Regions from separate parts of the Homo sapiens genome. Here region 2 is linked to region 1. The links come from fine-mapping of genetic effects on gene expression. A gene starts in region 1. The other region holds a variant in brackets. All regions are shown on one strand. Distances are between the middles of the regions.

The links. PIP is the estimated chance that this variant, and not a neighbour inherited with it, causes the effect. A credible set is the group of variants that fine-mapping cannot tell apart.
Region 2: its variant is the best candidate, but not a certain one, in a credible set for the expression of ZFP1 in prefrontal cortex (GTEx, PIP 0.52).

Annotation. Positions count from the first base shown.
Region 1 is chr16:75,145,493-75,150,873 of GRCh38, forward strand. ZFP1 (ZFP1 zinc finger protein) reads left to right here and starts at 3,032. Exons shown (of 4, transcript NM_153688.4): 1 at 3,032-3,151. RefSeq lists an enhancer at 2,843-2,892 and a silencer at 3,253-3,622.
Region 2 is chr16:75,168,276-75,173,656 of GRCh38, forward strand. It overlaps ZFP1 (ZFP1 zinc finger protein), which reads left to right. Exons shown (of 4, transcript NM_153688.4): 4 at 978-3,959. The coding sequence ends at 2,059. Among named protein-coding and RNA genes, the nearest start is that of ZFP1, 22 kb to the left of the region's middle. The variant C/T (reference allele first, on the strand shown) is at 2,152.

The DNA of each region.
Region 1 (5,381 bases):
CCTTTTCCAAGACCATTGTGGCCCACCCTGCTCTCTATCCTGTGCCCATAAGAACCCCAAATCCCAGGCTCCACAAACAGAAGAGCAGCAGAGGGGCAGAGGGGCAGAGCTGCAGAGCAAGGTGGTGGAGAAGGAGAAAAGAGAAGAAGCAATTGAGCATTGAAGAGGTAGCTGGATGGTCAGAGAGGAATTTGGCCAGGGACAGCAGAACTCCAGGGGACGATTATCTTCCCACGCCATCCCCTTTCCAGCTCCCCATCCTGCTGAGAGCCACCTCCCTCACTCAATAAAACCTCTGCATTTACCATTCTTCAAGTCCATGTGACCTGATCCTTTCTGGATGCTGGACAAGGACCTGGGTATTAAGAGGGCAGGGTGTAAAAGGCTGTCACCCTCACTCTCCACTGAGCTGGTTAACGCTTAGCTGTCCATGGATGGCAACTGCTAGAAGAGCATTAATTGTAACACACCCCTAGATGCTACCATGGGGCCAGAGCCCAAAGGTGCTCACCCTGGCCCTGGCACCCACTTGCCTCTGTGCTCCCCCTCCCATAAGGGGTTTTAGCACAGTGGCTGAGTAAGCTAGCCACGACAAGTCCCGCGAAGGGGTCCAGGGAACTCTCCTGTCTCATTAACATACTGTTACCACACAATCCAGCAACCATGCTAATTTTTTTTTTTTTTTTTGGAGACGGGGTCTCGCTCTGTCGCCCAGGCTGGAGTTCATTGGTGCAATCTCGGCTCACTGCAAGCTCCGCCTCCCAGGTTCACGCCATTCTCCTGGCTCAGCCTCCCAAGTAGCCGAGGCTACAGGTGCCCGCCACCACGCCCGGCTAATTTTTATTTTTGTATTTTTATTAGAGACAGGGTTTCGCTGTGTTAGCCAGGATGGTCTCGATCTCCTGACCTCGTGATCCGCCCGCCTCGGCCTCCCAAAGTGCTGGGATTACAGGCGTGAGCCACTGCACCCGGCCGCAACCATACGATTTACCCAAATGAACTGGAAACTTATATCCTCACAAAACCTGAACACAGATGTTTAGAGCAGCTTTATTCATAGTTGCCAAAACTTAGAAGCAACCAATGTATCTTCAGTAGGTGAATGGATTTAAAACACTGGTACATGCAGACAGTAGAATATTATGCAGCACTAAAACGAACTGAGGCTGGGCACAGTGGCTCATCCCTATAATCCCCGCACTTTGGGAGGCCAAGGCAGGAGGATTTCTTGATCCCAGGAGTTTGAGACGAGCCTGGGCAACATGGCAAAATGCCATCTCTACAAAAAATACAAAAAATTACCCAGGCATGGCTGTGTATGCCTGTAGTTTTAGCTACTTGGGAGGCTGAACTGGGAGGGTCACTTGAGCCCAGGAAGTGGAGGCTGCAGTGAGCCATGATCGCACCACTGCACTCCAACCTGGGTGACAGAGTGAGACCCTGTGTCAAAAAAAAAAAAAAAAAAAAAAAGCCAGGGTAACTTGAGGGAAACATGAGGGAAACTTAAATGTATATTACTAAATGAAAGAAGCCAATCTGAAAAAGCAACATATGTATGATTCCACCTATATGACAACCTGCAAAAGGCAAAACTATGGAGACAGTAAAAATATCAGAGATTTCCAGGGGTTGTGGGATGGATGAATAAATGGAGCACAGATGATTTTTTGGGGGGCAGTGAAACTATTCTGTACGATACTGTAATGGTTACAGGCATTTGTCAAGACCCATAGAATGTACAACATCAAGTGAACACTAATGTAAGCTATGGACTTTGGGTGCCAATGATTTTGTTTTTTAATTTATACTTTTTGAGACAGGGTCACCCAAGCTGGAGTGCAGTGGCACAATCTTGGCTCACTGAAACCTCAGCCTCCCAGGCTCAAGTGATCCTCCCACCTCAGCCTCCCGAGTAGCTGGGACTACAGGTGCGTGCCACCATGCCCGGCTAATTTTTGTATTTTTTTTTTTTTTTTAAGAGATGAGGTTTCACCATTTTGGCCAGGCTGGTTTCAAATTCCTCGGCTCAAGCAATCTGCTTGCCTCAGGCTCCCAAAGTGCTAGGATTACAGGTGTGAGCCACTGAGCCTGGCCAGGTGCTGATATTTAACTGTAGGTTCACCAATTGTAACAAATACACTGTTCTGGTGTGGGATATCAACTTTGGGGAGGTTGTGTGTGCTGGGGGGACATGGGTTATATGGGAATTCAATGTATTTTCTGCTCAAATTTTGCTGTGAACCTAAAACTGTTCTAAAGGATGAAAGGAACTGAGGGTGAAGGGAAATGGGAAGATGGTGGTCAAGGGGTACAAAGTCTCAGTTATGCAAGATGAGTAGTTCTGGGGAGATGCACAGCTATGTGACGATAGTTGACAATATTGTGTACTTGAAATTTGCTAAGAAGATAGATCTTAAGTGTTCTCATCAGACAAATAACTATGTGAGGTGATGCACATGTTAATTAGCTTGATTATGGTGAATATTTCACAAATGTAGATATCAAGTTGTACATCTTAAATATATAGATCTCAACAAATATATATACCTCAACAAAGTGGCCTGGGAAAAAAGGGAAAAAAGCTAGTTGCAGCACATGATACCTTTATGGCCAGTTTTGTAACAACAACAAAAAAATCAAAGTGCGAACTTAATGTTATACGCAGTTAATCTTTAGAAAGTGAGATTATGGATACTTTATTTTGTACATATATTCTAATTAAATACAGTTATAGATTATTTGTGTAATGTTTAAAAGCCAAGTTGTTGTATTTAAGGGGGAGGTGGTGAATTGTAGTTCACGACCCACTCTGGGAAAAAAGAAAACAGTGCAGGCTAAGGAGATTATTTTGGTCGGCTCATCAGACCGCCTAACAAGGCGAAGACTTTCCTGAGAGTCCCTAAAGCCGCGGCCCCGGAGGCTTGTGGGAAATGTAGTCCCGAACGTGGATGGTCCACCCCTCCGAGGACCCTGGGAACGGCCCGCGCCCCTGTTTCTGCGCATGTGCAGTGCTGCGAGCGCGCCGGTGGCCGCCCTTCCCCCACCACCAGCGGCGAGTGGGTGACAGAGCCCCCGTCTCCGCGCGTCTTCGCCGCCCTGCGCCGTGACCCGCTGTGGCACTGGGCCACGAGTGGAGGCTGCGCCCCTCCAGGTACGAGAGGGGCTTCCAGGTAGCTCCGCGCGGCCTGGGGCCGAGGGGAAGGAGATGAGGGATGGGCTCGTGCCCGCGCAGGGTGGGAGCCCAAACTTCGGCTACTCGTAGGCGGCAGTGACCCTCAGGGCGGCGTCCGGGGTTGCCCGGCGCTCGCCTCTGAACGGGGCCGGCGGGGCACGCCTGGCCGAACGTGCGGGGGCGGGGACGGCGGAGGGAAGGGCGGCTATGAGGCTTCGCCTTCTTCTCTTTGTCAGGAGATGCGCCTCAGACGGGCGGCGAAGGGCTCGGGCCGCGCGGGAGCGAGTTCTGGAGCCCCGGCGGGCGCGCGCGCGCGGGACGAGGCCCCGCCGGGGCGTGGTGGGGGCGTGGCCTGACACACCTGGCCACGCCCCGATGCCCGGTGCCTCGTGGGTGGAGGAAGGACTGGAGCCTGGTCAGTTGCCGGTGGTGAAGGAGAACCGTGATCCCTTTGTCAGAGGGTCTTCAGTGAGGTGTTCCCCTGATCCTCGCATCCACCCCGTGACTTCCAGCGTTATCATCTCCGTCGCTATCCCAGGAACACGGGAGGTTCAGAAGGGGAAAGTGATTTCCCTAAGGTCTCACAACCCGGTGGTACTTTATGTGAGCAGCAGATATTTTTTCATTTATCTTTTGATTTTACTCGCTGGTAGATTTTGCCATGTATACGTTTTGACGTTTTAAATTTCTCTCGGGTGGAATTTACTGTTCTTTCCGTTTGGGGCACCCAAAATTCTTCACTACTTTGAAATACGAAAGTTTTCCCATGATTCTGGTGCAGTCACGCTCTGCGTAACAGTGTTTCTGTCAACGAGGGACCTCATGTAAAATGGTGGTCCTATGTGATTGTAATACTATATTTTTGTATTGTACCGTTTCTTTTCTTTACTTTCTTTTTTTTTTTTTTTTTTTTGAGACGGAGTCTCGCTCTGTCGTCCAGGCTGGAGTGCAGTGGCTTGATCTCGGCTCACTGCAACCTCCGCCTCCTGGGTTAAAGTAGTGCTCTGCCTCAGCCTCCCGAGTAGCTGGGATTACAGGCGTGAGCCACCGCGTCCGGCCAGACACAATTTATTGATGTAACTGTTCCTCTAAATACTACTTTAACTACATCACTCAAATTTTTATATCTTGTATTTTCTTTTCTGTTGTTGTTGTTTTTGAGACTGAGTCTCACTCTGTCACCCAGGCTGGAGTGCAGTGGCACTCAGCTCACTGAAACCTCTGCCTCCCGGGTTCAAGCAGTCCTCCTGGCTGGGATTACAGGCACCCGCCACTACACCTGGCTGATTTTTGTATTTTTAGTAGAGACGGGGTTTCACCATGTTGGCCCGGCTGCTCTAGAACTCTTGACCTCAAGTGATTCTCCCGCCTTGGCTTCCCAAAGTGCTGGGATTACAGGCATGAACCACTGCACCCAGCCTTTTTATTGTGTTTTCATTACCATTCAATTCAAATTTTTTTAACTTCCCTTGTGACTTCATTTTTTACCCTTATTTATTTAGATTGTATTGCATAATTTCCAAGTTTTTGGAGATTTTCCAGATCTTTTTTTTTTTTTTTTTGAGACAGAGTCTCGCTCTGTTGCCCAGTCTGGAGTGCAGTAGCGAGATCTCGGCTCACTGCAAGCTCCGCCTACCAGGTTCACACCATTCTCCTGCCTCAGCCTCCAGAGTAGCTGGGACTACAGGCGCCCGCCACTACACCTGGCTAATTTTTTTATTTTTTTTTGTATTTTTAGTAGAGACGGGGTTTCACCGTGTTAGCCAGGATGGTCTCTATCTCCTGACCTGGTGATCCACCTGCCTCGGCCTTGCAAAGTGCTGGGATCACAGGCGTGAGCCATCGCACCCGGCCCAGATCTTTTTATATTATTGATTTATAGTTTAATTCTGATTTGGTCAGAATACTGTGTTACGAATTTCAATTATTTTAAATTTGTTGTGGTTTGTTTTTGTATTGTATTTTTGTTTCATTTTGTTTTAGTAGACTCCTGGTCTCAAGTGATCCGCTGACCTTGGCCTCCCAAAGTGCTTTACAGGCGTGAGCCACTGCACCAGGCCTGTTGTAGTTTGTTTTAAGGTCGAGGATATGATGATCTCTCTGGGTAACTGTTTCGTGTGTATTTGAATAAATATTGTGCTGTTGATCGTAGAATCTTCCTTGATTGATTGATTGATTGAGACAGGGTCTGTCTCTGTTGCCCAAGCTG
Region 2 (5,381 bases), 23 kb after region 1:
CTTGCCAGTATCTGTTGTTTGACTTAATGAACCTGGGTAACTTTATCCTTAAGATGCTGAACACATTGAAAGAAGTAGGCTGGGCATGGTGGCTCATGCCTGGAATATTGAGAGTATCCCTTGAGCCCAGGAGGTCAAGGCTGCAGTGAGCTATGATTGTGCCACTGCACTCCAGCCTGGGCAAATGAGGGAGACCCTATCTCTAAATAGGAATGGAAGAAAAGTAGGATATGATAGTGAAAACATGTTCACTCTCCCAGCAACTTCAGTAGAAAAAAAAAAGCAATAAAACCAGCAGCAGTTAGTGATCCTGTGGTAAGGGTTGTGTATCTCTTAGCGAATGAGTTTCTGGATTTTACCATTTGCAAGATTCTCACTTAAGAGATTTGGAGCTCTGCTATCTGGTTGTCACTGCAAACCTATGAGAAGTGCTGTTCTCTGGAAATCATTTTGGTAAAGATGAACAGTAGAAAAAAAGGAGAAAAAGCTTAGAACTATGCAGACTGGTGCTGGTTCTACCATAGTAGTCCGAGTTTAGCAAATAATACTATTAGTCGAGATCTGCTTAGGTGTTTCCCCTTAATTCCCTCATCTGCTTACTTTCTCGGTCTCTGTGCTAACTGCAGTGTCCTTAAGAACACTGTGAATCTCCCTCCCTGGCATTGCCAGCCTTCTCATATTGTGTTCTGTTTTCTGTCTCCTTTCACCCTCTCTGCCCACTTTAAGGTCATTTTGTGATCTGGCAATGCTACTTGTATTGATTTTGGTTTTGTTTTGTTTTTTTAACCACAAGCTATTACCTTTCTCTTTCAAAGTTTGAAAGGAAACATTTGCACTGGGAATTTTTTAATATTGGGAGACTGGGTCCCAAACTAAAGAGTCAGCCCTGTGATAGAACACGTGTGAAGACTTCCCATTCGGTAACATTATAGCGGAGGCATTGACAAGGTTCTTTTCATTGTGCTCTCTATTCCTAGAAGTGTGGAAGGCTGATGACCAGATGGAGAGAGACCACAGAAACCCAGACGAGCAGGCGAGGCAATTTTTAATTCTTAAGAACCAAACCCCAATTGAGGAAAGAGGCGATCTCTTTGGAAAAGCACTTAATCTGAACACAGACTTTGTTTCTTTAAGACAAGTACCTTATAAATATGACTTATATGAAAAAACTTTGAAATATAATTCAGACTTGCTTAATAGTAATAGAAGCTATGCAGGAAAGCAGACTGATGAGTGTAATGAATTTGGAAAAGCACTTCTCTACCTGAAGCAAGAGAAAACCCACAGTGGAGTAGAATATTCTGAATACAATAAAAGTGGAAAAGCCCTCAGCCATAAAGCAGCCATTTTTAAACATCAGAAAATAAAAAACTTGGTTCAACCTTTCATTTGTACTTACTGTGACAAGGCTTTCTCCTTTAAGTCACTCCTCATTAGTCATAAGAGAATACATACTGGAGAAAAGCCATATGAATGCAATGTATGTAAGAAAACCTTCTCCCATAAGGCCAACCTCATCAAACATCAGAGAATTCACACTGGGGAGAAACCTTTCGAGTGTCCGGAATGTGGAAAAGCTTTCACCCACCAGTCAAACCTCATTGTACACCAGAGAGCACATATGGAGAAGAAGCCCTATGAGTGCAGTGAATGTGGAAAGACATTTGCCCAAAAGTTTGAACTCACCACACACCAGAGAATTCATACAGGAGAGCGACCCTATGAGTGTAACGAATGTGCAAAAACCTTCTTTAAGAAGTCAAACCTTATCATACATCAGAAGATTCACACGGGGGAGAAACGCTATGAGTGCAGTGAATGTGGAAAATCCTTTATCCAGAACTCACAGCTCATCATACACATGAGAACTCATACAGGAGAGAAACCCTATGAATGTACTGAGTGCGGCAAAACTTTCAGCCAGAGGTCAACTCTTAGATTACACTTGCGAATCCACACAGGAGAGAAACCATATGAGTGTTCCGAATGTGGGAAGGCCTTTAGCAGGAAGTCCCGACTCAGTGTCCATCAGAGAGTTCACATCGGGGAGAAACCCTGAAACTCCAGCCAGGTCTTACTGTGGAAAACTCCTGCCAGAACTCTTCAAGCGGGTGAAAAACCTCATGACAGTATTGAGGGAACATGGGAATT[C/T]ATACTGAGATGCAATCTCTCAACTCAAAAATGTATTAAAAATAGGATCCCATGAGAACATTATACTGGAAGTTACATGTGATACCCAGCTAAAGAATACATATCAGAATATATCCAGTTGTAAATAGCCATACCCAGTTGTACTACAATGAGCTTTTTAAAATCTTGAATGAATTGAGTATTCTAGACAGCAGCATAAGAAATATACAAACAGTATCCTATGAATTTAGTGGTTTTATGTGGATATGCCACAAAACACAAGTGGTATGCTTTAGATCTGCACATGTGAATTTAGCATAATCACTGGGAATTTGAAATTCTTGTCCTCTGTGATAATTAGGACATAACAAGATTTTCCATACTAAACATCACATGTGTTTTTCAGTATCTCTGCAATCCAGTATGCATTCCAAATGAAATGTGTAACATTTAAAGTAGCATGGAACCTACGTCTTTCCCTACTGCTTGCTGGCATATATCAGTTGGTATGAACATTGTTCTTGAGCTGCCTCTTAGGAAACAGAAGACAGTGTTGAAGTTTTCCCTGCTTCTGGTTTGCTGAAGATTTTCTAGAAGCACTATTTACACAAATATGCAAATGTGAAATAACCGATCTATAACGTGAAGGAGGCAGACATGAGCTGTACTACTCAGTATGCACCACAGAATAAGAGTTTGCCGTGTAAAGACAATATCCCCATTCGTCATGCTCTTATTTTCCCGTGGGATATTTGCATACAAATGCATGTCTGTTACCAAAATATTGTGTAACACAGACAGAAACCACCTGTTTTTGTCTTTCCTTGTTTCCCTTAATATTTCATGAATTGTCTAGCAAAAATGGTAGGATGCTTCTGTAGTTCACAAATGTTACATTTCAGAGACTTTAGAGGAAAAATTATTTTAAATAACTGTCAACTGTTTCATTGCTTTTTAAATTTTTCACGTGCATAACCCCCTTTAGAAGTAAATTTTTACACTATTTTGTTGTTTAAAGGAGGCATTTCTACTTCCTTGAGTTTTGCTGTTGCCAACCTAAAACATTTCCCTTTGGAACATGAGTTATAAGTTATTACTTTTCCTTTACATGTTTACACTTTTATAAAAATCAGATTTTTCAGTGGTCTCTCCAGATATTAACAAGAATTGTTGTGTAACTCAAAGATTTGCTTTTATAGACTTGATTTCAAATTCTTAAGTTCAGCCTTTCCCTATCAATCACAAATCATGTATTGGAAATTATAAATGGCAACCAAAAACTGGCTTTTAAAAAATATTTTTGGATATCATTGATGTGCTGTCACACTATATATTGAGTGACTTTCTGAACAAATTTATCCAGAACATCCATAGCCCAATAAGCTTTTGTCTAAGTTGTCATCTTACTTACTCACAAAGGAGGGGAAAACGTTATTTTCATAGCTGCTTTTAGAAATGTAAATTGTAACAGCCTCCTTGGACAACATTGTGAGTCTGTTTTAACATTAATATACTCTTACAACCTAGGAATCTCCTGGGAATCTATCCCTAAGGAATAAAAAGCGCCAGCACTTAAGATTATATGTTTACTAATGTATATTGTATTTTTTGGTAAGGACCAAAAAAACAAACAAAAAAAAGACCATCAGTAAGGGAATGGATGAATAAATTGTGGTAAAAACATACCATGGCTGAATGGTATTTCCTTGAAAAGAATGTGTGGGAACAAACTCCAAACTTCTCTAGGTCAAATGAGGAAAGCAAGAGGGGAGAGAGAGAGTGTATGTGTGTGTGTAGCAGTTTTTATAAAATAAAGATAAACCCTTATATATGTGTGTCTTTGTATATGATTTTATGGGCCTGGTGAATAGAATTCCTTCCATTTTTAACCTGTGGACCTCACCAGCTTTATCAGTGAGGGCTTTAGCAGTAAACTGAATTAGCGCCTTATGAAAGGATGACTTGGAGAATGAGAGAAGGATTAAGGGAACAAACAACGGATGGTAAGGAATCCAGAGACCAGCAGTGCCAAGAAGCTGTTGTCTCCCTAGGGACCAAAGGAAGAAATGGTGTTTCAGAGCCCAGTGAGAGCCAAAATGTTGGAAGGTCTCTTTCCTGTAGGAGATAGAAAAATAAAAAGGAAGAGTGTCTCTTAAGTGGATGTTGAAGCTCTACAAAGATGCAGCTACTGTGAGAAACACAGAACTGTCAGGAAAGGGAGCAGAGGGGGAAAAGCCTCAGCTCTTTATTGCTGTCTCCTGAAGATGCCTCCATCAACTGAACCTAATCAGAAGCCCGGGTGATGCCGTCCTCCTGGGATAAAGCAGGGTAGAAAGATGGAGGATGGACCAGGAGGGGAAACAGCACAATCAGCAAATCTCCCATCTCAGTTTCAGCCTTGCTGGTCCGACTGTAATGAGGCTTTCCCAGAAGGACCCTTCTTCCCCTATGGTCATTCCAAGTGGCAACTGTTTGTCTCATGCCTCTTATGCGTTTAGAGGTAAGATGACTGACTCTGAAGCCCAATTTCAGAGGAAATAAAAATTTGGGAGTTGTCACAGGGATAATATTTTAAGCCATAAAGCTAGGTGAGATTACCTAGGAAAAAAAAGTATAAAGAATGTCAAGGACTGAGCCCCGAGCACTCACCCCAGTGTTTGCTGGGCAGGAACTGGCAAATGAAACTGAGAAGGAACCACCAGGGTTAGGGTGAAAACCAGTAGAGGGTGGTATCTGAAGCCAGCTGAAAACACTTATTTTGAAGTAGAAGAGTGGCCACTATATCAAATACTAATAATTTGTATGAAGTTGGATATATGCTGAGATTAACCATCAGTGAGGTCATTTTGAAAAAAACAGTTATAAAGGAGTGGTCAGGGTAAATCTAGGAGGATTCAAGATAAACTTGGAAACAGGAGCTGTGAATAAGGGGCCAAGTGTTAAGGACTGAAAAGTCTGAGATTTTGTCCTACTTGCAAGGTAACAAGTTAAGCTACCAGTTTCATGGATACTGGCAGAAGACATACTGTACTGACCTCGAATACACATTTGCTGGGTGGAGTTACAGGAGGGGAGGTCCAAGTTTAGGGAGCCTGAATCTTAAACAGTGGTCTAGAAGTAAATCTATCAAACCTTTGTCTAGAAGGAAGACATATTATACTGGATGCTAAACAAACTGTTGCTCTGGAGAACGGATTACCTATCTAAGGCTATTCATCCTGAAAACAGCCTGTAACAAAAGCCATCACCAT